Homo sapiens: one gene and its partners. The protein of the gene in region 1 purifies or fractionates together with the protein of each later gene. This does not show direct contact. Each region holds a gene or a part of one and is shown in the gene's direction. Other genes may lie near its edges.

Region 1 (4,519 bases):
ATTTTTGTTTGAATGTTTCCTGGGATCCTTACAGGAGAAGAAGGGCCTCTAAGATGAGGTGTTCCAAGATTTCTGAGAGTAGCAGTTTATACCCAATATGATGTTTATGATTTGCCAGGAAAGGTTTTAATCCACTGACTGATATGCATTTCAAATGCAGTTACACAATGTGGGTAAGTTATTTGGAATTAACTAGTTTTTTTTTTTTTTTGAGACAGAATCTCACTCTGTCACCCAGGCTGGAGTGCAGTGGTCTGATCTTGGCTCATTGCAACATCCACCTCCCGGGTTCAAGCAAATCTTGTGCCTCAGCCTCCTGAGTTAGCTGGAACTACAGGCACGCGCCAACACACCCGGCTAATTTTTGTATTTTTAGTAGAGACAGGGTCTTGCCATGTTGCCCAGGCTTGTCTCGAACACTGACCTCAAGTGGTCCACCCACCACGACCTCCCAAAGTGCTGAGATTACAGGCGTGAACGACCACACCCAGCCTAGATTTTTAAAAAATATAATTTAGACTTGTTTCCATCTCAAATATAAACCTTTATTTAGCCAAATTTGTGAAGTTTTAAAAAGATATGTAGCATTTCTTGAAAAGATGCTCCTTATATCTAATCTTTTGCATAAATGGTTTGTATTTGTATGGAATTTGTAAGGATGGATTCCCACTGTTGAGTAATTTCTGTGATAAATGAAAAGGGAATTGAAGCTTTTCAGGTGGCTTGTAGGAACTAGAACAACCGAATTACAACTTTCCTCACACTCCTTCTGTCGCCTCCAACAACTTCTTAGGTATTTAGGAATAGAAGAAAGTCGCCTGGAGGAAGAAAAGAGAGCAGTAAACCAAGTTATTACCTCATTGTTTGAACCCTTTGTTGAGGGAAAGGAAATAATAGATGTCTTGGTTTTATTTCTATGAAGGGGAAGAATCCATTTTCTAATTCCAAATGATGAAGTTAAAAATTTTTCTGTTTAAGGAGTTGATATAATTCTGCTGGAAAAGAAAAAGTTTCCAGGCCATTGGAAATCATGCAGGGGCAGAAGCTGGTATTAGCTACTGTTCATATTTGCTTTTGGGCAGAGGAAGAGTTCATTATTTATCCTTCTTTTCCTCTGCCTTCCCACATGGCTATCCTCTTTACATTTTATTTTGTGCCTTCAATATGATAGTAAATAATAGAGCCATCAGTCAGACAGCTGTGCCTGTAGTTAGAGGGTACTCAGTACATGTAGAATGAATGAATGAGGAAATGAGTATTTCCTATGATATTATTTGCATCCCTCCTAATGGAAGAGATTAATTTATAGCAATGTTTTTCTTAACAAAATACTTTTCTAACAAAGAAAGGGGTATTTTGATGATGGTCTTGGTTTATTACTCCCTAGCTCTAGTTTGTGGACAACTTTTTATTTCTATTTATGGTTTGAAACCACTAGATTCAGGTACTTTCCATAGGTAGCTTGGGTGGTTTTTATCACCAAAGGAATTTTTGTTCTATGTCTCCAGTGCCCTGTTGGGCGTTACAGAGCTGTTAATATACACTGTTGGAGAATTTTGCTAATAGTTATGATTACATGAGAAGTTTTCACGTATTTCCTTCTAACAATTATCCTTCTTCCAATACCATGCAGGGTGTGTATTTATTGCCTTTTTCTCCCACCTGTTTTAGGACCTACCTCTAGCTTCCAGGACTGCCCTGAGGTATGAGGAAGGTGATTAGTATTTTCTTCTGTCACATTATAACCTGTGACACCCATCAATGAAACCTTGGGGCAACCTGTACTCTCTTGCTAACCGAACACAATTCTTGTCCTTGTGTGCAGGTATAGTGGAGGATTACAAGCCACCGTTCTACGATGTGGTTCCCAATGACCCAAGTTTTGAAGATATGAGGAAGGTAGTCTGTGTGGATCAACAAAGGCCAAACATACCCAACAGATGGTTCTCAGACCCGGTAAGAATGCCAGTTTCTCAGTTTTAGAGCTCTTTTCCATTGTTTGCTATTTGTTTCCCTTTGAGTTTCAACTGGTATTGCATCTGAGTGATCTGTCCCGTGGATCTGTTGTTTTCTCTTCCTATTTTATATAGAAGGGTTTAGATCTAGAAGAGTAAGTTCAGAAAAATACTCCATTCTTGAAGAAGCCATATCTCATAGGGGTTGCTAGTGAATGACAATATTTGTAAGAATTTCTGTGAATATGCAGCTTCAGGAATCGGGAGACTCATGACTACTGCTATTAGCCCTAAGACTGCATGTATAAACCAAGAGACTTTAAGTGAAGCTTTTAACCTCCTTTCCATCTCTGTATATCTGAAATCCCAAACACAAGCTGCTGGATGCTGAAGATCCTGTATTGCTACTCATAAGTAGTAGCAGGTATAAAACAATGAGAAATGACCCTATTTGGAAATTTCAGGATTATCTCTAGGTTAGTATTGCTGCTTTTGGCACCCATAAAATCATTAAGGGGTCCAATCTGGCCTATGTCGTTTACCTAATAAATTGGTAGCATTAAGAGTCCAAAGGACAGAGTTCATGAAATTCTAAGAATGGCCTCTTTATCAGTGGTTAAAGGTTGAATATTTGCTTGAAGAAGATGACAGTAACATAACTCTAATTTCACAAGACCTGCGAGTTCTTCAGAATAGTAGACATGATATCAGCCCAGCTTCCAGGGCCATTAAAAAGCCAGTTTGTCATTGTGGTGTTTGTTCTTTCTCTCCTCAGACATTAACCTCTCTGGCCAAGCTAATGAAAGAATGCTGGTATCAAAATCCATCCGCAAGACTCACAGCACTGCGTATCAAAAAGACTTTGACCAAAATTGATAATTCCCTCGACAAATTGAAAACTGACTGTTGACATTTTCATAGTGTCAAGAAGGAAGATTTGACGTTGTTGTCATTGTCCAGCTGGGACCTAATGCTGGCCTGACTGGTTGTCAGAATGGAATCCATCTGTCTCCCTCCCCAAATGGCTGCTTTGACAAGGCAGACGTCGTACCCAGCCATGTGTTGGGGAGACATCAAAACCACCCTAACCTCGCTCGATGACTGTGAACTGGGCATTTCACGAACTGTTCACACTGCAGAGACTAATGTTGGACAGACACTGTTGCAAAGGTAGGGACTGGAGGAACACAGAGAAATCCTAAAAGAGATCTGGGCATTAAGTCAGTGGCTTTGCATAGCTTTCACAAGTCTCCTAGACACTCCCCACGGGAAACTCAAGGAGGTGGTGAATTTTTAATCAGCAATATTGCCTGTGCTTCTCTTCTTTATTGCACTAGGAATTCTTTGCATTCCTTACTTGCACTGTTACTCTTAATTTTAAAGACCCAACTTGCCAAAATGTTGGCTGCGTACTCCACTGGTCTGTCTTTGGATAATAGGAATTCAATTTGGCAAAACAAAATGTAATGTCAGACTTTGCTGCATTTTACACATGTGCTGATGTTTACAATGATGCCGAACATTAGGAATTGTTTATACACAACTTTGCAAATTATTTATTACTTGTGCACTTAGTAGTTTTTACAAAACTGCTTTGTGCATATGTTAAAGCTTATTTTTATGTGGTCTTATGATTTTATTACAGAAATGTTTTTAACACTATACTCTAAAATGGACATTTTCTTTTATTATCAGTTAAAATCACATTTTAAGTGCTTCACATTTGTATGTGTGTAGACTGTAACTTTTTTTCAGTTCATATGCAGAACGTATTTAGCCATTACCCACGTGACACCACCGAATATATTACTGATTTAGAAGCAAAGATTTCAGTAGAATTTTAGTCCTGAACGCTACGGGGAAAATGCATTTTCTTCAGAATTATCCATTACGTGCATTTAAACTCTGCCAGAAAAAAATAACTATTTTGTTTTAATCTACTTTTTGTATTTAGTAGTTATTTGTATAAATTAAATAAACTGTTTTCAAGTCAAACAGTGAAATTGTTTTTCAAAATATAAAAAAGATCTGTGTAACATTATGCATTTTCTTATGGGAGCAATAGAAGCACAAAACTAATTTGTAAATTGAATTTGCTTTTTAAATCTACTCATGAACTTATGTAAGACATCATAAGGATGTCTTACAGCTTGAATTTGGTATAAGAAAATTTGTTTCTTCCTTTGGCTGTGATTTTTTTGTTTTTTTGTGTTTTTTTTTCAGTCAGTTTCTCCAGCTGTAAGGTGAGGGTAACAAATCTCTCTGACCTGCCTTTCTCACAGGGGGGTGTTGTGAGTGTAAACGGGAAGGAGGATGTTAAAGCATTTTGTTGAGTGAAAGGTTCCACGTGAGTGTAAAGTGGTCTTATGCATCCGCCCTTGCTGCTTGGGAGAGTCCGTTCTCGGTTTTTTCACTGCTTGTACACAAGATTAAAAGGTAGAGTTAACAGTAGCCCAATAAGAGAAGAGGTGTGAACATGCCGGAATGTCTTCCAGAGGTAAGTTAATAACTTCATTAGGATGTATTTACTTGGAGGGTATATATTAGAATGACATTTTTTTAAA
Region 2 (7,000 bases), on another chromosome or scaffold:
GAAAAGACGGCCAAGCTGATCCCCAACGCCATCCAGATCTGCACGGAGAGCGAGAAGGTGACGGAGGACCCGGTGACGGGACCACGCGGTCCCCCGCTCAGCAGGCCGCCTCCCCCAAACATGCAAAGCCCCATTTGTTCTGCACCCTGAGTTCTCTCCGAGCTGTCCCCTTCTCTCTGTTCTCCCGGCCCAGGCGCCCATCACCCCTGACCTGATCCCCGCACCAGCCTCTCCTCTCTTTCCCTGCAACCTGTTACCTCACACAGCTGCTCAGGAACAGCAGAAATAGTAAAACTCTTCCATGTATGTGGCACCTCAGCCGCCCCTCCCTTCGTAAGTCTCCCCGATGTTGTGTCCTGTCCCTGTCATTGTGGCCTCATGTCCGTTGGTTGCAAGATGGCTTTCTCACCAGCGGTCCAACAAGAAGGGGGACAGGTGTGGGGGACACTTCCCAGCAGACTTCTCTTTGTGTTTTGTTGGTTAAAAGTGGATCTGGCCAGGTGTAGTGGCTCATGCCTGTAACCCTAGCATTTTGGGGAGGCTGAGGCAGGAAGATTGCTTGAGCCCAGGAGGTTGAGGCTAGCCTGGGCAACATAGTGAGACCCTGTCTCTTAAAAAGCAAAAAATTAACCAGGTGTGGTGGCACGCACCTGTAGTCCCAGCTACTCACTCAGGAGGCTGAGACAGGAGGATGGCTTGAGCCCAGGAGGTTGAGGCTGCAGTGAGCCGTGATCATGCCACTGCACTCCAGCCTGGGTGACAAAGCCAGACCCTGTCTCAAAAAAAAAAAAAAAAAAAGGATCAACTGACCATTCTTAGTGGCAAAGGAGGCTGGGCAAGTTCCCTGGGCTCCCCCCATCACATCCCAGCCCCTCTGGGCTGACCCTGTCTAGAGATGCATCTGTCCCCTCCTTGGACTGGGAGCTCCAAGGACAGGGCCAGGGGTCGTCTCCCCATCCCAGTGATTCTGGAATTGTCCAGGGCAGGGCCGGGCGCAGGACAGACGTTTTGTGGAACTAATGCAGGGGTGAATTAGTGGATTCATGGGGCCAAAGATGTGGCGTCAGCGCAGATGAGGGTGGCGCTTCCCCACCTCTGTCCTGGTCGCTCCCCAACCTGCTCACACCTCTCTCTCTCTCTCTCCCTGACAGCATTTCTTCACTTCCTTTGGGGCCCGTGACCGCTGCTTCCTCCTCATCTTCCGCCTCTGGCAGAATGCACTGCTTGAAAAGGTGGGCCTGGGTGAGGCCCGGGTGGGGATGGGGGGTTTCCAGGGGGACCATGGAGCCAGGGACCCCAGAACTTGCGGAGCTGGAGGCAGCCCTGGCTCTTCTCCATGGGCACCAGGCCCAGTGCCCCTGCAGCTCCTCCCTGGGCCCCACCTGACCCCGAAGCTGAGTCTCTGGCAAAGGGACATGAATTGGTGTAAACCGTCGTAATTCTTCCCTGGGGCTGGGAATGATTTTCACCCTGAAGGACATCCAGGTTCCACTGGCAGCGGGGGAGTGTGGATAGAGGCTGGGAGGTCATCACAGGATGCCGGCTATGGCTGGTCCACAGCACCTCAGAGAGCCCCAGCCCCATCCTCCGGCTGAGCGGCACTCACGCGCTGCCTTCTCAGAGGCTCCGATGTCCCTGGAGCAGGCAGGAGTGCTGAGGGTCCCATTCAGCATCCTGAGAGAGGGACAGCGCACAGTCAGGCCCTAAGGAGGACAGGGCAGAGCCCCGGGATTCCAGCCCCATCCCCTGGGGCAAGTGATTGAACCCCATCTGTCAAATGGGGGCCATCCCCACTTCACAGCACCCAGAATTTTGCCCAGAATAAGTACTCAGTCATGTCAGCTCTTATGAGCAGAGTAGCCCAGCGGTTAGCTCCCTCGCCACCCCCTCTGCCCCCCGGCTGTAGACCAGCTCCCCTGGGGTCACATCTCAGCACTGCTACTTCCTGGCTGGACCCCAGCATGTCACCTTGCACTTCTCAGCACCATTGTCTTAAAAGGATGATGAGGTTAGCACCTACTTTCCAGATGGTTTTGAAGATACAGTGAGTTAGTACATCTGTAAAGTGGTTAGAAGAATGCACCTAGTTGACCAGGTGGCAAATGTCTGCTGCTATCATCACTTACTGTTAACTGTCATCACTGTCATTCAGCCACTCTGGCCATGGGTGGCTGAAAGCTCAAGGCTCCCGAGGACACCTGGGAAAAGATTCGGGGGGCCACGATGGCATAGGCATGGGAGACTCAGCCCTGGAGTCTGGCAGGGCTTGACCAAGTCACTTGGTGACCTTGAACACATGACTTTCCCTACATGACTTCCCCTTCCTGGGACTCCGTATGCTCTGTAAAGATGGGAACATTCATGGCTGGGCACGGTGGCTCATGCCTGTAATCCCAGCACTTTGGTAGACGAAGACGGGCGGATCGTGGTGCCCACGAGGTCAGGAGTTCGAGACCAGCCTGGCCAACATGGTGAAACCCCGTCTCTACTAAAATTGCAAAAATTAGCTGGGCGTGGTAGCACGCACCTGTAATCCCAGCTCCTTGGGAAGCTGAGGTAGGAGAATCGCTTGAACCCAGGAGGGAGAGGTTGCAGTGAGCTGAGATCACACCACTGCACTCCAGCCTGAGCGACAGAGCCAGACTCCATCTCCAAAAAACAAACAAAAAAAGATATAAAAAAAATGGGAACATTCTCTGGCCAGAGTATTGTGGGGACTTGGGAAGCAGGAAGTTTGAGTCCTGGGCGCAGGCCCTGGAGGGGCTGTAGCAGGGGATTCCCCGCTTGCTGAGGCCAGGTCTGGTGCGGGAGATCGTGGCTGCCTCCTTGTGGAAGCCAGGGGAACTGCGGAGGCCGAGGGCTGGTGGGGAATCTGGCGGGCCGGGCTCTGGCTGGGGTGAGATGGAGGCCAACCCCAGGTCCCGCCTCCCCAGACGCTGAGTCCCCGCGAGCTCTGGCACCTGGTGCATCAGTGCTACGGCTCAGAGCTGGGCCTCACCAGTGAGGATGAGGACTATGTCTCCCCCTTGCAGCTGAACGGTCTGGGGTGAGTTGGAGGTCAAAGGAGGTTGAAGGGTTCGGGGGAGAACAGGACGGTCGGCGTGCAGAGTTCCTGGAGTGCTGGGGGGCCTGAGATGGTTGTATGACGTCTGGAGGATTCAGGAGGGTGTATGGGGTCTCAAGGACACAGCAGTCCCGCTTCCTCCCCTTTCCCACAGGACCCCCAAGGAAGTGGGAGATGTGATCGCCCTGAGCGACATCACCTCCTCGGGGGCAGCTGACCGCAGCCAGGAGCCAAGCCCAGTGGGTTCGCGCCGTGGCCATGTCACGCCCAACCTTTCCCGAGCCAGCAGCGACGCAGACCATGGGGTGAGCGGTGGGTTGGAAGAGGGGTGGGATACTGATAGGAAGAGAGAGGAGGGCTGGGGGTGCAGTGGGAGAAGAACAGCCTGACAGATTTGGAGGGGAATGGATAGGGGGACAGGGGAGGCCTGGATGGAGGAACAGGACAGGGAGGGGAAGACGGACATGTGACAGGGAAAGAGAGACAGGGAAGAGAGGGGACAGACAGAAAGGATGAGAGACAGAAGGGATGGGAGATGGGTGGATAGATGAAGCAGCAGACAGACAGACGGACAGGACAGGTAAGAAAGCTTATGGCTCAGGCATCTGAGACAAGCCTGGCAGGGGCTGAGAGGGGCCCTCATCTGGGTGGCCCCAGGCTGCTCGCAGCTCAGCCGTGAGCCCTCGGTGCACACACCACCCCGGGTCTGCACAGGCTCTGGAATCCTTGTGGCCAGTGTGGACTTGGGAGCCCTGGGGCTGGGATGGAGGTGGCCAAGGCTGCATCGGGCCTTTCTCCACAGGCAGAGGAGGACAAGGAGGAGCAGGTAGACAGCCAGCCAGACGCCTCCTCCAGCCAGACAGTGACCCCGGTGGCTGAACCCCCGAGCACAGAGCCCACCCAGCCTGACGGGCCCACCACCCTGGGCCCCTTGGATCTGCTGCCCAGTGAGGAGCTATTGACAGACACAAGTAACTCCTCTTCATCCACTGGGGAGGAAGGTGAGGCAGGCGGGCCCAATTCATTCGCCTCCGGTACTTGCAAGCCTCGCTCAGTCTTAAGCAAGAGGGGATGGATTCGCCCGCAGCACTGAGAATCCAGGGGCAGGCGGGATGGCGTTCAGGCGCTGTTGCTAGAAATCTCTGTCTTTACTCTGTTTTGAAGGCAGCATGGCAGGGTGAACACAAGCACAGACTGAAGGCAGCTTGCCGCGGTTCACATCCTGGTCACACCACTTCCTGACCATGTCACGTGGGCAAATTATGTAACTTCTCTGAGCTTGCTTTCCTCCTCTGAAAATGGGGTTAACAATGATAATACCCACTTCATAGGATTGTTGTTAAGAGACTATAAATGAGGCTGGGTGTGATGGCTCACACCTGTAATCCCAGCACTTTGGGAGGCCAAGGTAGGAAGGATTGCTAGAGGCCAAGAGTTGGAGAACAGCCTGGGCAGCAAAGCAAGACCCCGTTTTGTACAAAAAAGAAAAAAAAGAAAAAACTAGGTGTGGTGGTGCACACCTATAGTACCAGCTACTTGGCAGACCAAGGCAAGAGGATCACATGAGGCCAAGAGTTTGAGACAAGCCTGGGCAACATAGTGAGACCCCTGTCTTTACAAAAAATTTAAAAATTAGCCAGGCATGGGGTCATGCACCCTATGTAGTCTCAGCTACTGGGGAGGCTGAGGCAGGAGGATCGCTTGAGCCCAGGAGTTGGAGGCTGCAGTGAGCTATGATTGCACCACTGCACTTCGGCCTGAGCAACAGAGCGAGACCCTGTCTCTAAAACGAACAAAGGGAGAGAATTAAGTGATTTCATACATTTAAAGCACTTGGGCCAGTTAGTAAGCATTGACTATTAGTATTTCTATTATCATTATTGTATTCATTTTCTCTCTCCACTAATTTTCAGCTAGCCTCTATTCTTGTCTCTTATGGGGCAGAGATGGCCTCAGCCCTGCCCCAGACCAGCCCAATGAGAGAGAGCAGCCTATTTTTCCTAGTGTCTACAGCGGACACCCTAGGGTTGGCTCTGATTGGGCCAACTTGAGAGTGTGCCTGCCCCTGAACCAATCACTGTGGTTGATCGGATAGACCTGGGCCACCCACTCACCCCTGAACCAATTGCTGTGCCCCTAGGTTGATGCTCCCAGGAGGCGTGCTATCTGGTAATGAATCCCTGTGATTTAAATCTCAGGGCCTAGGTGTGTTCTCCACCCAGAACCAAGCACAGTGGCTGTCTGTCTGGGCCTGGAGCACGTGCCCACCCTCAACCCATCCCTGAGTCACAGGAGGGCTCTGTGTCAGTGTCCAGCTGTGCTCCAGGAGGTGGGGTCCGCCCATGCACACTACAAGGCCTGGGAGTGGGGAGGCGTGGCCCGCAGAGGGAGGGAGGAGTGGAGGCAGTCATCATCCTCGGCTCTCCTCTGTCTCCAGCGGACTTGGCTGCCCTGCTTCCCGACCTCTCCGGCCGCCTCCTCATCAACTCTGTCTTCCATGTGGGCGCTGAGCGGCTCCAGCAGATGCTCTTCTCGGACTCGCCCTTCCTCCAGGGCTTCCTACAGCAGTGCAAGTTCACAGGTCAGCGGGCGCATGAAGGAGAGGCTGAGGTTACCCAGGTGCAGGGGAGGGGTGAGGAAGGGTAGCCCAGGACAGGGGAAGGCACTGCTAGCCAGTGGGGCAAGGCGAGGTGGTGAAAAGCAATGTCTGTCAGACCAGAAGCAGCTCTGCCACTTACTAGCTGGGTAGGCTTGGGCAGAGTTCTGAGATGCTCTGTGCCTCAGTTTCTCCTTCTGTATAATGGGGGTATGATAATAGTACCTGGCTTATTGGTTATCATGAGAACTAAGTGAGTTCATACTAGAAAAGTTCCTAGAGCAATACCATATAGTAAGCGTTTAATAAATACAAGTTAAGAGGCTGAGGCGGGGCTGGTGCGGTGGTTCACACCTGTAATCCCAGCACTTTGGGAGGCCGAGGTGGGCAGATCACTAGAGGTCAGGAGTGTGAGACCAGCCAGGGCAACATGGTGAAACCTCATCTCTACTAAAAATACAAAAATCAGCTAGGTGTGGTGGCACACACCTATAGTCCCAGCTACTTGGGAGGCTGAAGTGGGAGAATTGCTTGAACCTCGGAGGCGGAGGTTGCAGTGAGCTGAGATCACACTGCACTCCAGCCTGGGTGACACAGCCAAACTCTGTCTCAAAAAAACAGGGGCGGGGGGTGGGGTGCTGGGCACAGTGGCTCACGCTTATAATCCCAGCGCTTTGGGAGGCCGAGGCAGGTGGATCACCTGAGGTCAGGAGTTTGAGACCAGCCTGGCCAACATGGTGAAACCCCATCTCCACTAAAAATACAAAAATATTTTAGCCAGGCATGGTGGCGAGCACCTGTAATCCCAGCTACTCAGGAGGCTAAGGCAGGAGAATCACTTGAACTCGGGAAGCAGAGGTTGCAGTGAGCCAAGATCGTGCCGTTGCGCTCCAGCCTGGGCGACAGAGCGAGACTCTGTCTCAAAAAAAAAAAAAAAAAAGGTGGGAGGAGGGCCAAGGTGGGAAGTTCATGTCAGCCCAGAAGTTGGAGACCAGCCTGGGCAACATAATGAGACTCAGTCTTTACAAAAATAAAAAAAAAAATTAGCTGAGCATGATGCTGCCCACCCGTAATCCCAGCTACTCTGGAGGCTCAGGTGAGAGAATTGCTTGAACCCAGGAGGTGGAGGTTGCAGTGAGCCAAGATCATGCCACTGCACCTCAGCCTGGGTGACAGAGAGAGACTCCATTAAAAAAAAAAATGCTCCTGAGGCCTCCCCAGAAGCCGAGCAGATGTCGGCATCATGCTTCCTATACAGCCTGTGGAACTGTGAACCCATTAAACCTCTTTTCTTTATAAGTTACTGAGCCTCAGGTATTTATAGTAATGTAAGAATGGCC
Region 3 (7,000 bases), about 52 Mb from region 1:
TTTTTTTTTCTTTTTTTGAGACAGGGTCTCACCCTGTCACCCAGGCTACAGTACAGTGTCGTGTTCTCGGCTCACTGCAACCTCCATCTTCCAGGCTCAAGTGATCCTTCCACTTTAGCCTCCCAAGTAGTTGGGGCTATAGGCACATGCCACCATGCCCGGCTAATTTTTGTATTCTTCTATAGAGACAGAGTTTCACCATGTTGCCCAGGTTGGTTTTGAACTCCTAAGCTCAAGCAATCCATCTGCCTCGGCCTCCCGAAGTGCTGGGATTATAGGCATGAGCCACTGCTCCTGGCCAGTACTCGATAATTTTTTGTGGCTGTTTGAAGGTTCAGTATTGAGGAAGATGTTATGAAGTAAATGCCATATTTCTATTCTGCTCTTCTTCTACCTCCCACTTCTCTTCCTAAACCCTTTTAATTCTAACTGCTGATGGTACTCTTATAGGATGTATATTATATATATGTACATACACACACACATACACCCTTATGCATATGTATGTATACACACACCATATATAGTATGTGTATATATGTGTGTGTATATAAATATATGTTTATATGTATTTAAATAATTTTGATTAGTATTGCCCAGTAAAAAGGATACCAACTATGAATAGTTACATATATTAAATATACATCATGATAATATTAAGATGACAAGTTAGATATTAGACCTTAACTGTCTTTTTTTAATCCTCTTTTTTTAGATACTCTTGCAGATTATCAGAGCAGGTTCATTGCACTATAACTAATCTTGCTGTCTCTGTTGCATGAGTGCAAAAGATAACATAAAATGGTTGTCAAGCAGTATCTTCATTTTCAAAGGGGGGAAAAGTTGACTTTTGTACAAGCCAGTAAATTTATTGTTGATTCCTGACAAATTTCAAGATTGAGTCATTCAACAGATGGCTGTGGGACTTAGAGAAGAACACGGGACCAGCATGGGGTGCAGCTCAGGAAAAGCAGTTGCTGTCACATAAATGTGTATCCTGTTTTGGTAGATTACTATGTTAGTAGAGAACTGTGTCAACATACTATTCTGTGTCTGAATTTCAGCAAGCAGATAGAGCCACAGGATTCCTCTTCTAGACTCACGGTGGGGAAGCAATAGCAAAGACTCCTCAGGAACTGCAGCAGCATGCCACTCTAAGTACCATAGTGGCCTCCTGCTGAGAGTTGTTGCTTTGTTCAGAACTGAATTCTAGGAGAGGATCTGAAATCATACTTGTTCCCCTCAATCAATAAGAATATGGCCTTGGAGTCACGAACAAAAACTAGGGTCAAAGCCCTGTTTCATCACCTTGTAGCCAGGTAACCTTGAGCAAGCCACCTAAGATCTCTGTATCTCCATAATAATGTCCACCTCTCAGCGTCAAGGTAAGAACGAAAGGATAATGCTATATCGAGTGTGCAGTATCCCACCAAACCCAGTTTTGGGGCTCTCCTGAGGGGGCAGTCAGGGTGTCAGCCAGGGCTGCAGCCTATGGGTGCCATCCATCATCCAGGCTTGGGGCAGCATTGGCCTTGGGAGCCAGTGTGGCATCTGATTAAGGATGTGTGCTTTGGAGCTGACTACCTGGGTTGGAATCCCAGCTCTCTACTTACCAGCATGACTCTTCCACCTTTCAAGACCTCCATTCCCTTCCTCTTCATCCAGAAGTAGCTGGAGAATGGTATAGGAGAAGCACACAGCCCAGTCCAAATTTCTGTTTTATAGAGAACACAGGCCCAGACAAAGCCTCTTAGTGAGTTGCCTAAGATCATCAGGAAGTGACCAAGCAACAAGCAGAGCTCAGGATTCCCAGATTAATGTCGGGAATGTCTGCTATGCAGCGTGCCCACATTTACCACAGTTCACTGCCGGGGTGGCCCAGTTTCGCTCTGGGGCCTTGATCCTTATTACTGAGGGGCTGTGCTCCTTCCCAGCCTGAGTGTCCACCCTCAGAGTCCCCCACTTAACTGCTTCTCCCAAAGCTCATGGTATATCCAATTCTGAACACAGCAGGAGTCAGCTCACATTCACCCCAACCCAATCTCAGCCCCTCTGTCAGGGGAAAGACTCCAAATGAGTAAAACTCCCAAACTCTCCTCTGAAATGCATTTTCAGAAGGAAAAAAAAACTTTTAACTTATGGGTATTATTCATGCTTGTAATTTTAAGCGAGGACACTTGGCTGGAGAAAAATCACCTCTAAAAGTGGCTCAATAAAAAAGGCTCCAGTAGCCCAGAGTGTGCTAGCGCAGTCCTGGGCTGGACTGATGGGTATTGGTTCATGCTTGTCCTTTTTAGTCACTGACACAGTCTTATGACTGTTTCCTTTCCTGCTAGAAAAGGAGATTCCCAGGTTTCTTTTCTATTTCTTGATCACTCTAAGGTGAGATAATTACCCAATATACCACGATTACATTTTCATTTTAAAATTTGAAGTAATTTTGGACTTACCTAAGAGTTGCAAAATAGTGCAGAATTCATGAATACACTTTACCCAGCTTCCTCTTTTGTTAACGTCTTGTATGGCTGTAGTATAATGATCAAAATGAATCAATTAGTGCTAGTATACCACTATAAAGTGCACACAGTATTTGAATTTCACCCGTTTTTCTGCTTAATGTCTTTTTTCTGTTCCAGGATCCTTTTTCTGATCCAGTTTCCCCACTTTGCATTTAATTGTCACTTATTCTTGGCTTCTAATCTGTGACAGTTCCTCAGCCTTTCCTCTTTTTTCGTGACCTTAACACACTTGAAAGGGTGTGAGAGATTTTGTAGACCATCCCTCAGTTTGGATTTATCTAAACTCCTCCAATTCCCATGGGGGATTCGAGATGCTCTCTGACAATCACCTTCACAATCTATAGAAACAACACATTTAAGAAAACCACATCAGTATCTCAAGACTTTAAGTCAACCCGTAAACCTACCAAAATGCATTTTTCAGATGGGACTTCAGTGATTGTCAGAGAGCCTATCAAACCCCCCATGGGAATTGGAGGTGTTTGGCAGTTTGTTTTCTAGTAGGGACTTTTGTTGACATCTCATTTCACTCATTTAGCACAAACACTGCATCTGAAGGTAGCTTGCAGTGGGAGAATATTGCTGGCAAGGTTTGCCTTTTCTCACCCAATATAGAATTTTGAGGCTGTGATTTGGCTCTTCATTCAGTCAGGAATGCAGCATGGGAAATAGAGGTTTTCAAGCCTTCACTCCCTGCTGCCTGCAAAAAAAAGTGTCCAGTCATACCTGCCTGTCCTGCTCAATACCCACGATATGATGGTCAGGAGAGGAAGAATGGGCATGAGGTTGGTGCCTGTGCCAAAGGGAGATAGGAAGGTCTGAGTTTGCACTGAGTCCCAAGGGGTCGCAGAGATAGAGGCTGAGCAGCAGGTCCCTTGGCAGCTGCCCACGCTGTTTCTGTTTCAGGAAGCTGACAAAGCCAGAGGTGGGTGTCAGCACATCCCCCCGCCCCCTCTACTGAAGTCACCACCTGACTTTTCCAGGCTCTCCCTCCTCATCCAGGCGTCACAAGAGCCACCATCACTGGGACCACAAGAAAACTGGCCTCCAATGCATGCTTCTGAGTCTTTCTCTCTTAAACTTCTCAGGACCAGCCTCAAAAAACATGGGGAATAAGGCAAGGTGTCCCACTGTGTTGCATACCACCCTTTTCCTTCACCTTCCTCCTCACCACCATGGTTTGCTTTTGGCTGAGTCCTCGGTGATTTAGCTTTCTCTCCTAATTATATGGCACCAGCATCCTGACTGGTTGATTGGGAGCTGTGAACGGCTGAAGTGTGCCAAGCTCTGTCTGCCCCCCATCCGTCTCAAAGGCTGTTAGGATCTATGGCAACTTTTGTCAGTTCACTTATAGGTTTGGTTTTTAGAGCTAATATATGATATACAGTCATGCATCAGTTAATGACTAGGTTATGGTCTGAGAAATCTCCCATGGGGCAATTTTGTCATCATATGAACATCATAGAGTGAATTACACAAACCTGGATGGTACAGTGTATTATACACCTGTATAGCTTCATACCCTAAGCTATATGGGTATGGCCTATTGTTCCTAGGGTGCAAACCTATACAGCATGCTACTGTCCTGAATCTCTAAGCACAAGAGAATCTTGTAACACCAAAGTATGTGTGTATCTGAACACATCTAAACACAGAAAAGGGATAGTAGAAATACTGTATAAAATACTAAAAAAAGGGTCCACCTGTATGGGGCACTTACTGTGAATGGAGCTCGCAGGACTGGAAGTTTCTCTGGGTGAGTCAGTGAGTAAGTGGCAAGTGAAAGTGAAGGCCTAAAACATTACTGTACAGTACCATAGACTTTGTAAATATTGTACACTTAGGCTACACTAAATTTATTCTAAAAATACTTCTCTTCAGTAATAAATGAGCTTACTGTAACTTTTTGACTTTATAAACTTCTTTAAAAGTTTTTCACTCTTTGTAATAACATGTAGCTGAAAACATGTTGTATAGCTGTACAAAAATATTTTCTTTATATGCTTATTCTATAAGTTTTTTCTTTCTTTTTTTTTCTTTAAACTTTTTGGTTAAAAATGAAGACACAAACACACACACATTAGCCTTGGCCTGCACAGGGTCAGGATCATCCTTATCCCTGTCATCCACCTCCACATCTTGTCCCACTGGAAGGTCTTCGGGGGCAGTAACATGTGTGGAGCTGTTGTCTGTGATAACAATTTCTTCTTCTGGAGTCCTCCTGAAGGACTGTTTTACAATTAACTTATTTTTTCCTGCATAAGTAGGTGTACGCTCTAAAATAATGATAAAAAGTGTAGTGGAGTAAATACATAAACCAGTAACATAGTCATTTATTATTATATCAAGTACTACATACTGTATGTAATTGAATGTGCTAGACTTTTCAACGACTGGCACTGCAGTAGGTTAGTGTACGCCAGCAACACCACACATGAGTGATGCATTTTGCTACAATGTTCCAACAGTTAGATTGTCACTAGGTGATAGGAATTGTTCAACTCCATTATAACCTTATGGGACCACTGTTGTAGATGCTGTCTGTTGTTAATGGAAATGTCATTATACAGCACGCCACTGTGTTCAGTTTTCCCCTGTGATGGACATTGCTATCTGTCTATGGCTTCATGGTCTTAGTAGATATGTTTATCCAGGTTAATTGAGAAACTGCTTCTCAGAGAAACATTTTTTTTTCTATAAAAGTTCTATATTAAAATGGCAAAATAGAAACTTGAAAAACATCATTGTAGGCCAGGCATGGTGGCTCACACCTGTAATCCCAGCACTTTGGAAGGCCGAGGTGGGCAGATCACCTGAGGTCAGGAGTTCGAGACCAGCCTGGCCAACACAGTGAAACCCCATCTTTACTAAAAATACAAAAAATTAGCCAGGCATGATGGCGGCTGCCTGTAATCACAGCTACTCAGGAGGCTGAGACAGGAGAAGCACTTGAACCTGGGAGGCAGAGGTTGCAGTGAGCCGAGACCGTGCCACTGCACTGCAGCCTGGGCAACAAAGCAAGAGACTCCATCTCAAAAAAAAAAAAAATAAATAAATAAATAAGTCATTGTATTTATACAAAAACTGTAAATTGTAGGAAGATGCAAAGAAAGAAAGATACTCACGCCTAAAGCCAGGATCCCTGCCATCAGCCAGTCAGAGGAAGTCCAGTGTGTGGGAATCTGTGCCGTCCCCCAGAGCCCATTCTGAGGCTGCCCTTGTCCACCAGACGTTGCTACTTTTCATATGGACTAGCGACAGATGAGAAGGAGGCAGTGTGTTTTCCTTTAGGGATTATTACGTTGTTAAATTCGATCCCACCACTGTAGTTAATGGTAACTATTTTCTGACTCATAGTGTTAATCCTTTGGAAAGGTATCTAGAGAGTAGTGTTTACTGAAATCCCTTTTGACAACTGCTTGGTTTGTGGAGTGCCTTGGACACTTACAGGCTCTTTGGAACTCAGCAGCAATTCCGAACTGATTGTAGCTTATACAATAAGAGACTGATATTATGGAACAATAAGAATAGGTTAATAGCTATAATTTTTCTTACTAAATAAAGGAGGAAAGGTTGGCTGAGGTTAAAATTTTAAGGGCTGTGCTTCTTAAGCTGAGTCTGGAGTTTATCTTTTGGGCAGGGAACTACCTTCTGGTATGTTATAAGGAGGATAATGACCTAGTGTTTCAGGTGTGTGGCCCACATTCCTGCCTCCTTTCTGCATTGCCTTCAGATCTGACCTGGCTTTGGTCCAAATGTTAGAATGACCACTTGATCTCTATTCATTTTTGATGGACTATCATAAAGAAAAAAAAAAAACTTCTTGCTGTAAAATGAGAAAATAACAAATCTTACTTGAGGTAGTGTGTCCTTTTTAAAATGCAGATACAGAATTAATTTTTAGCTTATTCATAGGACAGTGCCTTCTATTATAGGGCTGAGTTTTTGCGGTTCCTCCCCCAGGGTGATGAAGTTCTGGTGCACATATAGCTGCATAGGTTTCTGAAGAGTCTGTTTCATTTATAAGCTGTGAAGTAATTAGAAAATGTGAGGGTTTTTTGCAGACACGTAGGACACCAGGCCAAGCTTAAAGTTGGCTCTCAGGTGGACATTATTTGGTAGAGCAGATAACAAAGTGTCATTCTTTGATTCAAGAATAATTACTGGTAAAGAGCCCATTTTAATAAATGCCAGTTTGTCATAGCATTCTTTTTGGCAGAATATATTTATCTCTGTACCAGATTAGGAGTTTCCTATTGTGTGTGTGTGTGTATGTATGTGTGTATATAACATGTATGTATGTATGTATATAACAAATATATATATTTCAATATATAACAAATATATATTTCACTATATAACAAATATATACACACATACATATATGTATATATGCATTAAACACATATATACCTATATATGTTAAACATATATATTAAAATCTTATATATGTATTATGCTAATATTTATATAGTTAATGT

What was found. The genes of interacting proteins can lie anywhere in the genome.
Region 2: the proteins of ACVR1 (region 1) and GRAMD1A purify together in Homo sapiens (affinity purification with mass spectrometry; 4 studies listed by BioGRID and IntAct, with this or other methods). This does not show direct contact.
Region 3: the proteins of ACVR1 (region 1) and TGFBRAP1 purify together in Homo sapiens (co-immunoprecipitation; 5 studies listed by BioGRID and IntAct, with this or other methods). This does not show direct contact.

What each region holds. Positions count from the first base shown.
Region 1 is NC_000002.12:157,735,877-157,740,395, reverse strand, and holds the end of ACVR1 (activin receptor type-1 precursor), read left to right. Parts: intron 1-1,825; coding exon 1,826-1,956; intron 1,957-2,730; coding exon 2,731-2,865; 3' UTR 2,866-3,950; downstream 3,951-4,519. UniProt on the Homo sapiens protein: Bone morphogenetic protein (BMP) type I receptor that is involved in a wide variety of biological processes, including bone, heart, cartilage, nervous, and reproductive system development and regulation.
Region 2 is NC_000019.10:35,010,323-35,017,322, forward strand, and holds part of GRAMD1A (protein Aster-A), read left to right. Parts: coding exon 1-57; intron 58-1,151; coding exon 1,152-1,232; intron 1,233-2,933; coding exon 2,934-3,046; intron 3,047-3,218; coding exon 3,219-3,369; intron 3,370-3,866; coding exon 3,867-4,065; intron 4,066-5,501; coding exon 5,502-5,645; intron 5,646-7,000. UniProt on the Homo sapiens protein: Cholesterol transporter that mediates non-vesicular transport of cholesterol from the plasma membrane (PM) to the endoplasmic reticulum (ER).
Region 3 is NC_000002.12:105,319,736-105,326,735, reverse strand, and holds part of TGFBRAP1 (transforming growth factor-beta receptor-associated protein 1), read left to right. Parts: intron 1-7,000. UniProt on the Homo sapiens protein: Plays a role in the TGF-beta/activin signaling pathway. It associates with inactive heteromeric TGF-beta and activin receptor complexes, mainly through the type II receptor, and is released upon activation of signaling.